2 separate regions of the Homo sapiens genome follow, and region 2 is linked to region 1. Evidence: fine-mapped expression QTL. A gene starts in region 1. The other region holds a variant in brackets. All regions are shown on one strand. Distances are from middle to middle.

The links. PIP is the estimated chance that this variant, and not a neighbour inherited with it, causes the effect. A credible set is the group of variants that fine-mapping cannot tell apart.
Region 2: its variant is the best candidate, but not a certain one, in a credible set for the expression of SCN4B in whole blood (TOPMed, PIP 0.71).

The regions. Positions count from the first base shown.
Region 1 is chr11:118,150,322-118,155,689 of GRCh38, reverse strand. It overlaps SCN4B (sodium voltage-gated channel beta subunit 4), which reads left to right and starts at 2,867. Exons shown (of 5, transcript NM_174934.4): 1 at 2,867-3,077. The coding sequence starts at 3,017. RefSeq lists an enhancer at 1,749-2,249.
Region 2 is chr11:118,074,494-118,079,861 of GRCh38, reverse strand. All of the region lies in intron 1 of SMIM35 (small integral membrane protein 35), which reads left to right. It overlaps TMPRSS4 (transmembrane serine protease 4), which reads right to left and starts at 2,784. Exons shown (of 13, transcript NM_019894.4): 1 at 2,557-2,784. The coding sequence starts at 2,559. RefSeq lists an enhancer at 2,334-2,929. The variant C/T (reference allele first, on the strand shown) is at 3,029.

The DNA.
Region 1 (5,368 bases):
GTTTTGAAAAGGTAAGAGAGAAGGAGCTCTGACCTTTTGACACCCTCTCCCCTGGCATCCTCAGTAGCAGCCTCTGAGTTAGATCGATGGGCTAGGGTTTTGAGAATTTTTGAGGAAAGTGCTCTATAAATGTAAAATCCTCTAGCCCTTAAGCTAATGCATTTCCCAAGCACTCTTTCTGCCCAGCTGCGGAGCCCTCCTGGAGTTCTTTAGAGGAAAGCTGGGGGTGTGGATTGGGGAAATCAAGTAATGGGGGAGGTTCTAACGCTGACTTTAACAGTAACTGTGTAGCTGACCTCGGGTTACACATTCTACCTCTCTGAGCCTCTTTCTTCATCCCTAAGGCATGAGGGTTTCCTATGGACCCTTCAAACTCTATGAACTGGTGAGGTAGCAGTGAGGTAGCAGGGAAGGTGGGGAGAGGACACTGAGGACGTTGGCCATCTTTTCCTGTCACCAGGATCTAAAGATATCCCTGCAGCTCTGTCCCTCTCCTCCCCCTGCTCTGGGCAGGGGTCACTTTCCTTCCCTTTGGCTCACCTCCTCTCTCACCTCAGTCTAGGGTTCTGAGAAACATGACCCCTGCTGTAAAAATAAAGTGGTCAGTTTGTATGCCTGGCCCTGCGGATCTAGTGCAAGGACCTCCTGGGGAAGGACAGGGTAAGCCTGCGGACCTGGAGACAGATGGGGAGGCTTAGCCTCAGGGCCCACAGACCTCTTTAAGTTCAAATGTACTGAGTGTTTATCCTGTGCCTAGCTGTCTGCTGAGCACTTTTACATGCAATAATATCTCATTCCCTCTTTACAGCTAGGTCCACTTTTGATGTTGCAAGTCCTGGAGCAAAGGTACAAATGGAAATTATACATATGTCTAAATATTAATCAGGATAACAAAGTGTTAAGATTGATGTTTTATCCTCTGCCTTTAATTACTTTTCCTTCATGATAACCTGGAAAACCATGTCCAAAATGAAATTTTCAGGCCATTCTCTGGTACACACTCTTCTCTGGTCCTGTAGTGAGAGGGGCTCTTGTGCATGCCTAGGGTGTGTGTCAAGTTACATGCACTCCCCATCACCTGCATACAGCTGTCCCTTGCCCACTGCTCTAGCCCTTGAGTGCACACCTGATATGGCCAGCCCTTGAAAGGACAGATCTGGGGAATAGGGAATTCCAGAGTTCCTGATACCTGGAGTACAGTCTAGAAGGGGAGGAGGTGCATGCCCCCACCTGCCCTGCCCCCTTGGTCCCATGGACTCATTCTCCAGTGAGGGGCATGGCCAGAGGAGGGCCAGAATGAGGGCCTTTAAAACCAGAAATCAGGGCTGAGGCTTCTGTTGCCCAGGTCCAGGGGTAACATCGCTCTTAATAAGCCTAGGAGGCAAATATCATTGCATTCACCATTTTATAGGTGAGGAGCAGAGGCTCCCCCAGAAGACCATGTAACTTGCTCAAAGCCATACAGTCATAAATGGTGGCGCTGCCAGAGCCTCTGTGCCACTATAGGGAAGGCAGCGACCCTCTCTCCTGAAAAAGCAAACAGACATTCAGCACTTTGCCTGCAACCTCAAGGGGTCCGTGATCACGCCGAAGTCCACCCAGAGACCCCTCGTTAAGAAGGCGGTGCGTTGGTGTGCCTGCAGCAGAAGTCAGACCATGAAGTGGGAGCGGGCTTCCCAGTCCGGACCAGTCCTAGACAGTAAAGAGGGCCTGTGATGCAGGGAGGGTCTTGGATGGTTGGAAAGGTGCTGAGGAGGAGATCGACTCATTTACAGAACCACCAGCCCAAGTAGCACCGCTCAGGTGAAACTCTTTCACTTGGGCCTGTCTGGGAAAAGGCTTACTCGTTCACAGCCTCGCCTCAGCCCTCTGACCTGGTTGTCACCCTGGACTCCTCCACCCCTACCCCAAAAGGGAGGCCGAGGGAGTCTGCCGTTCCGAAGAAAACAGGAGAGTTGGAGGAGGGCGAAAAGGCAGCATCTGAGGGGGACGGCCTAGGTAGGAAAAATGAGAAGCAGGGGTGCAGCGGGAGGGTGAAATGGGGCGCAGGACACAGACCAGGCGCGGACCAACCTGCTCCCTAACCTGGAGCGTGGTGATTTCCAAGGGGTCCATGGAGAAATGTGGGGCGGGGTGGCGTGGGGGTGGGGGAAGGGAGGGCCGGGGCAGTTTGCAATGGGAAAGCTCTGTTCCGGGCTTCCTAAAACAACCGCCGGAGTTGCTGAGCGATGGGGCAGAAGGTGGCGGGAGCGGGTCCCGAGGCTGCACGCGCGCCATGTCGCACGCCACCGAGGAGGCGCAAGCTGCAGTGGGCAAGCCCGCACACGCCCACCCGTTGCGGCAGCGTCCGCTGCGGACTTTAAAGCGGTCCCTTGGCGGTCCTGGGAGAGGGAGCCGCTAACCTTCCCGTGTTCCCCCAAGCAAAGCAAAACAGTCTTCCAGCAACCGAAAAGCTCCACCTCTACTCCCCCCGAACTATGCTCCTAATTGGCAGCTCAGCGCATGGGATGATGCGGGTGGCTGCAGGCCGGCCCTGCAGTGCCAGCCGCAGCAGCCCAGCCCCACTGGAGAGGGAGTTGGGGGCACGGCGTGGTCCCGGGGCTCCGGGACCGCGAGGCGGGGTGCGGCAGGCAGGGTGCGCAGCGGGCGGGGGCTCCCCGGCCTACGCGGCGGCCACCGCCCCTCCTGCGGCTGGAGCGCTTCCAGAGCAGAGGCGCAGCCTCGCTCGCCGCTGCGCTCGCTCCGTCTTCCTCCCGCTCCTGCTCCGGCTCCTCCTACTCCTTCCCTCCCGCCGTTGCTCCAGCAGCCGGCTCCCAGCAGCGGGCGAGCGCGCCTCCCCCTCCGCTCCCTCCCTCCCCCTCCTCTCGCTCTCTGCCCGCTAACTTTCCCGAGCCCCGACCGGCGGCGCAGAGCTCCGGGGTAGCTTTGTGGCCGAACGCCGACCTCGGGCGGAGAGCGCGGCTGTGCCCAGTATCCCATCCCCGCGACCCCCGCGCGCTCCGGAGAGAACAGGACTATGCCCGGGGCTGGGGACGGAGGCAAAGCCCCGGCGAGATGGCTGGGCACTGGGCTTTTGGGTAAGGCAGCCCCAGCTTGGTCTCTTCTCTTGCCTCCCCCCACCCCCAAAGAAGGGGACACTCGAGAAGGAAGATGCCTTGGATGGGGTGGGCTTTGGAGTGCGGCACGGAATGAGGATGGTGGCCGCCGGCTTCCTGCCTGGTTCCTGCCTGGTTCATAGGCTGTGCTCCCTGGGGACCGTGTGCGTCCCTCTCTACCCCATCAGCCCGCCAGTCTCAGGATTAGTTTTTTTGCTGTCCTTGGCACCTTCGGCTCCAGGTATTTGGAGCTGGATCTTGGGGCTGCAGCGCGGGTCTCCAGAGTTCAGAGGTTCAGGATGCTGGAGGAGGGGGGTCCGTGCCTTGAGTGCAGGGGATACCAGGTGGGTTGCACGTGTGACTGTTGGAATGGTGGTTTCCATCCCGGCCCAGAGCCGTTTGCTTGTTTCCCAGGCACCAGGCATGCACCAGTTGGGGGTGGGGGAGTCCCCTTCTTCCTGGGCCCTTTTCCTGCTTTGCTCCTCTGCCCTGTACCTCCCTCAGGAGCCACTGCCTTCCCTACAGCAGCACCTGAAAGCTGGAAGGGGCTGGAGGGGCTTGCGGGATCATTCAAGGCCCTTTAGGAACGGCCTTGTCTCTCTTCCTACAAAGAGATTCCGTAGGGAAGACCTGTTTGACCTGCTCCTGGCTCTTCATTTTTGAAGTGAATATGGAGACAGAGAAGACATGTCCAGAGGACACGGAGGAAGAAGCATTATTAATATCTATTAATATGCACATGAGAGTTTTGAGTGTCAAACTCCAAGAGATTAGGGAATGATATTTATTCATCCAGGATGTAATCTCCTCATAAATCATAGCCAGACTTTAATGTAAGCCGACTCCATCTCTGGCAACGGCATCTCTTCCTGTTTATATTGGTCAGATTTGGCTTTTGGCAGCTCCCTGCATTGGGTAAGACACACGGTGTAGGTATTTCTGCTGAAAACAGGGAGACAGAACCCTATAAGGGAAGTGGCTACTGTTTCTGCGAATGTAAACTGTGTGCAGATCTAGCAGGTTGGTGCCTGGTGGTGAAGAGGGGAGAGAGTATTTCTTGTACTTGGGATGTTTATTTACCTCTGTACCGCTAGATGGAAGACACCCTTGTTTTCTCCTGTACCTTGGCACAGATGTCATGCTGGTTTCACAGTGACCTTAATGAAGTGGGCCTTAGTGACGCCTGAGGCTCCTTTTCACAGGGTGGGCACAGCGCCATTCCATGCTACTTCCCCTCATCCCATCTCAGATCAGCCCAGGTCCCCATGGTGGCAATGGCAGGGGTAAAGGATCACTGAGGAATTCAAACTCAGCCAGTCATTAAACTACCCCACTTCACACCTCTGGCTTACCTTCCTGGGTGGTGGGATGCCAGTCCCTTGTTTGTTAGAATACTCATAGAACCAGGCCTCTGTGGGCAACCAAGAGGGCCCTGAAAATGATGTGTGTGTGTGTGTGTGTGTGTGTGTGTGCACGTGTGTAAGGGGGATTGTAGGCACAGTCTTGGTACATTGCTCCAGGTGGAAGCCCCACCTTCTCCAAGGACTGTTCAGCTGTATAGACCAGGTAGGGGCTAAGGCCTATTGATATAGGTTTAGATGAATTTCTGAGCTACCCTTTGGGAGCCCAGGAGAAAGCAGAGTGACTTGTAGGTGGGAGACCTGCAGGCCCCAGGACTGGCCTCATCTGCTCTGTCCCCTGCCCCTCTGGTCTGCAGAGGGACTCCAACCAAAGTCCCTTTGGCCCTTGACCAGGTAATACTGACTGAGCCCTCACAGGGGCATTGGTCTGAGCTTGGGACATAGATGACATCCTTGCTTCTCAGTCCAGTGGGGGAGATACAGAGACGACTGGACAGCCAACTGGAGGTGTTCCCTGGGAACATCAGAGTTGGCAGCAACTCTGGGAAGCAGAGCACAGAACTCTCCTAGGGATGAGGAAGTCATGGTCCAGAGAGGGATGGTGACTTGTCTAGGGGCTCATGGCCAATTGATGGCCAAGTGGGACAGAATCTAAGTTTCTTGGGCTCTGTCACACCACGCTGCTTCCCACTTAACTCAAGTCTGGTGAGGGGGAAGGTAAATAGTGATTGTGCTTAGGGCTGAAGAATAAGTGAGGCTCTGGGGCATGAGTGTGGAAGGATAAAGACTTGAGGGGCCTAGAGCGGCTCTTTTCACAGCTTCGGAGACTGGGTACAGAGCAGTGAACTCCCAGGAGTCCTCTTCCCCTCTCCCCGTATCAAACCCAGTCTCACAGACTGAGACCAAAGTGAT
Region 2 (5,368 bases), 76 kb after region 1:
GGCACTGCCAGGGCCGAGTGGGCTTCTGGATTCTGTGCCCCAGTCAGGGTGGACCCTGCAGTGCTCCCAGCACCCCGCTGCCCGCAGGCTGGCTCCTGACTGCCACGTTTCTGAGCCCAGCCAAGCCCAGCCAAGCCCCTTGACTCTGTACCAGGCTGGCACGGAAAACAGGAGGTGGGAGGGAGGACCAGCTTCCTCCAGAGCAGCCGGAAGCGTCAGGGGGTTGACCTCAGGTGTTAACACCCACGTCTGGTGGCTCAGGGTGCGTTTAGGTCTCCGGAACAGTAATGAGTCAAGGCCAGGATAACCAGTCCCAGGGTCCCTGACTTCCCTCCAGGCCTCAGCTATGGAGTAGTTAGCATGGGACACATTTCCTTCGGGGACAGGGCTTGGGCTCTGACCTCTGCCTGGGCCTGAGTCCCTGCTCCAGCTCTCCCTAGGAATACCCAGCTTAATGGGTTCTTGGGAGAGCTGTCATTAAGACGCAGCAGCTCAAAGGACCCTGACTGTCACAGAAAGGGGCCTGTGGGGATGGAAGGAGGTAGGGAATGGAAGGGAAGGGAAGGGAGGGCTGAGCCTGGGTGTGGAGATCCCATCCTCCCCTCAGGGCTGGGAGCTATGGCTGTCAAGGGTTATTAAGCACAGGCTTAATGACAGGGTTATTCAGCACAGGCAGTATAATGGCTAGCTCCGGGGCTAGAAACTTCCTTGACCACACCGTGGAGATTGGCCATGCTGCTGCCTTGCCTTTGGGGCCCCAGGCCTGACCTGACCCCTCCACCAGTGTTCCCACCTGCCCTCCCCCGCTCCTCCAGCAATGCCCAGCTCCTTCCCTGGTGGCAAAGGGTCTGTGTTGGGTGTACTACCCAGCTGTCATTTCCTAGCACAGACTCCTCTTTAGTCCTAAGTCCTTACATCTGTGCGGGGCTTCATGGTTTCCAGAACCTACTCACATGTATTAGCTGTGTAATCTCTGCGAACCCGGTGCATGTGCGTGGGGCTGTTGTGGGTCATATCGTTTCCGTGGGCAGGGGAGAAGGTGAGTCTCGGGAAGATGAATGCCTCAAGACAGCACAGCTAATCAGGGAGCTGGCCTCAGCCTTCTGATTCTGCAGTTAGTGACCTGCCCTAGAAATGATTCCCTTCTCTGTTGCTCCCCCAAGAGACACCCCAGGTCTCCTCAGTGCCTGCCACCCAGAAGCAGCTCACAGCTAGGTAGACTCCACAGCTGCTCTCCTCTCCTGGGAGCCCCAGGGGATACAGCGTCTCTGCACACAGGCCAAACTTTGGGGCGCCTCCTTGGATGGGAAAGCAGGAAGCTTGTGCTTTGATCCTGGCTCAAAGGGAAGCCCCTTCCCCTTTCTGATCATCAGCTACAACCGCACTAAGAATTGTTCTTGCCAGAATTTTCAGAAGAGTGTCGTGGGAAGTGCTCAGGTTGGGAATAGGAGACAATCACTCGAGGGGCCCCTGCAGGTCACACCCTTCCCCCTTGGACAGTGGCTTCTCCTTTCCTCTCTTCCCTTCCCTTTCACTTTGGTGGCTGGGCAATTGCTGCCTCTTGGCCAAGGACTGGAGAAGGAAGACCCCTGGGTTCCTCCTCAGACCCAGTTATTATCTCTTCCCCTCCCTGGCCCTCAGCTGTCCTCCTTGAAAGATAGGGTTGATTCTCTTTGCCCCAAGACAGCGAAGACGCTCCAGGTATTCAGAGGAGGAGGAGAGAGGGTGAGGGCATGAAAAGAGACCAAGTAAAAGATGACCACAAACACCCTAGATTGTTTGGAGGCATCTCTGCACTGTTTTCTTTTCCTTCTTTCTTTTTTTTTTTTTTTTTTTTTTTTTTTTTTTGAGACGGAGTTTCACTCTTGTTGCCCAGGTTGGAGTGCAATGGCACAATCTTGGCTCACCACAACCTCCGCCTCCCAAGTTCAAGCGATTCTCCTGCCTCAGCCTCCCAAGTAGCTGGGATTACAGGCACCTGCCACCACGCCTGGCTAATTTTTTGTATTTTTAGTACGGATGGGGTTTCACCATACTGGCCAGGCTGGTCTCAAACTCCTGACCTCGAGAGATCTGTCTGCCTCAGCCTCGCAAAGTGCTGGGACTACAGGCGTGAGCCACTGCACCCAGTCTACACTTTTCTTTAAAAAGAAAAGGAATCAGTTTCCCCAGGGAGTGGCAGAGGGCAACCGTGGCATCAGAACAGCCCCCTGCCTTGGAAAAATAGTGCCAACCTCTAACCAACAGACCTGGAGACATTGGGCAAAAGAACATGCAGGATTCAGGAAAGAATAGTCGGGAAGGACAGCCCTGGCTCTGTGCTCAGCTTCTTAGGTGAGCTGGTCCAAGGACCATGGCAATGGAGGAAGAGAGGAAGGCAGGTGGGTATGAGACGTGTACCGGGCTGGGGTGTGAGGGGATTTGGGTGTGGCCTCTTTTTTTAACCTAGAAGGTGTCACAGAATTCTCAGCTGATGGATGCTCAGGCTGCTTGAAGGGCCTTACATGGGGAGACCCACCCTTCCTGTGTCTTGGGAGCAGAGGGCCCCACACTCACCATGCTGGCTCTGTGATCCTCCCGGTCTCCCTGTAGCCTGGAGCTGAGATTGTCACCCCAAGGCAGCAGGAGGGCCTCCCCACACAGGTCCTGGCTGGCCAGCAGGTCAGAAGTCCCTGGTCAGCACTGGCTGGAGGAGGCCCGAGTGCAGGGCAGGCCTTGGTCCCTCACGCCCAGCATCCTTGTCCGCTGAGCAAGCTGCTGCCTCTCTCTGTGTATTCCAGGAGTGATTGGGGGACTTTGGGCAGCTTGATTAAAACAGCCCTACAAGTGAAGTTGCCAAACTGGAATGATTATGTGTCTTGTAACCTGACACCTATCTTAGGGGCTGGAACAACACCTGAAGTCATTCATGGGACCTTCGGCCTCAGAACAGGTGACACACCTAAGGCGTAACAAAAGCCTTCCCGCCTGAATGACTTCCACCCAACTGGGTGTTGGCTGAGGGTGATGCCAGAAGTTTCCGCCCCCC[C/T]TCCCCCTACCTTCTAGGTGCATGACTTCTCACTGTGTGGGTGCTTTGGTTTGGGGTTGTGGGAAGTTGGAGTGGTCTGGGGGTTGGGCGACAGGGTTTGCAGCTCAGTACAAAGAGATCATTGCCAGGTGTGGAGCAATAGGATTGGAAAGTCCACAGAGAAGGAGGGAGTTTCTTCTCTTAGGGAGGTAAGATGTACCCCCTTTCCCTGGATCCCAGAAGTGAAGCTGTCCTGCACAGAGCCAATGTACTAGTGCTTCCTGCCCCTGCCTCAGCAGCCGTTCAATATTCTGAAAATCACTATTGGTGCTCTGGCTAGAGCCCACGTCTCCTCGTCCACGGAGTCATTTCCTTCTTTCTTTCTTTCTTTTTTTCTTTTCTTTTTTTAAGACAGGGTCTCTCTCTGTCCCCCAGGCTGGAGTGCAGGGGCGCAATCTCAGCTCACTGCAACCTCCGCCTCCTAGGTTCAAGCAATTCTCGTGCTCCAGCCTCTCGAGTAGCTGGGACTACAGCCACCTGCCACCACACCCAGCTAAGTTTTGTGTTTTTGTATTTTATTTTATTTTGAGACAGAGTCTCTGTTGCCCAGGCTGGAGTGCAGTGGCGCGATCTTGGCTCACTGCAACCTCCACCTCCCAGGTTCAAGTGATTCTCCTGCCTCAGCCTCCCAAGTAGCTGCTGGGATTACAGGTGTTGTGCGCCACCATGCCTGGCTAATTTGTATTTTTAGTAGAGATGGGGTTTTGCCATGTTGGCCAGGCTGGTCTCAAACACCTGGCTTCAACTGATCCACCTGCCTCAGCCTCCCAAAGTGCTGTGATTATGGCGTGAGCCACCGCACCCAGCCCCACAGGATCATTTCTGATTCACGTTCTGCCACATCCTGATAGCTGGAGCTGCCCCCTGGCCAGGGGATGTGCAAGGTGAAACCTTACAGCCACAGATATTTTGCTGGGAGAGACTTGGATAATTGTCCACATTGTTCCCCCATTCTGTGGGCGACAAAACTAAATTCCAGAGAGGCAAAGTCAATGACCCAAAGTCACATAATGAATTAGTGTCTGGTTCCATATGAATCCAGATCTCCTTCCATTTCTCAGACCTGACCCTCCCAGGAGACCAGCCTGGGTTAGACGTGTGTATTTGTCCTTCTGTTGATAACGTGCTTCTGTGTATCAGCCCTTTAATTCTCCAACAACAACCCCAATATTTTGTTCCCATTTGTCAGCTGAGGAAACTATAGCCTATGGACATGAAGTAGTTTCGGGCAGAGTTGGGGCTGGAACCTGGTTCTCTTACTGGTTCACACTGCCAGGCTTGTGAACAGGCTGAATGGAACACAAGTGTTTGAAAGCCCCAGGTTCATGGTTTGGGATAATATGGCCCATGGAGGACCCCAGTGATGTCTGAGCAGGAGGAATACCGGATCTGTGTAATGGATTATTGGCCAAATCTCAGCTGATGAATGCAGTGTGGCCTTGGACTTGTCTCTGAGCAGCAGAGATCTGAAGCTGGCCTGCAGGGCTCTGGAGCCAGCACAGCCCCAGCCCTTCCTTACTGATGGCTGGTGGCCTTGAGAGTTGGAAGTCTTGGGCAGAGGCAAGAGCCTGTGATCTCAGGTGACCTCAGGGTCAGGGCCGTGATGGTCCAGGCAGGCACCTCCCCAGCAGCAGGGCAGTGAGAAGCCAGTGGGCCACTGGGAGCCACGTTTTCAGTTGTCTTGGTTCCTCTATGTGCCAGGCTAAACATCTGGCCCACAGGTTTGCATTGCTTTACCTGGTGCTCAGGTGATGAACCAGGAAAGAGGCAGCTGTCTGGGCATGAAGGCTGCTGGGCATGGCTGGTTGGAGGGATGATGACTCAGCCCTCCTGGCTTCTGCTCCCATTTGGGTCTGGGAGTTTGTGGAGAGGTCCGGGAAGAAGGCACATAAGCAGGACTGGGCAGGGTGGCTGTGATGCCTGCAGGTGGGGGTGAAGGTTTACAGAGGGAGGCACAGTGGCCTGGAGACAACAGAGGCCCACCTCTCCCAGGTGCCAGGGAAAACCAGCTGGACCAGAACCCACATTCTTTTTTTTTTTTTTTTTCTGAGACAGGGTCCCCCTCTGTTGCCCAGGCTGGAGTGCAGTGGTGCAGCCTCAGCTCACTGTAACCTCCACCTCCTGAGCTCAAGGGATTCCCCCGCCTCAGTCCCCCAAGTAGCTGGGATTACAGGTGTGAGCCACTATGCCTGGCTTATTTTTGTATTTTTTGTAGATACAGGGTTTCACCATGTTGACAAGGCTGGTCTCAAACCCCTGAGCTCAAGCGATCCACTCGCTCTGGTTTCCCAAAGTGCTGGG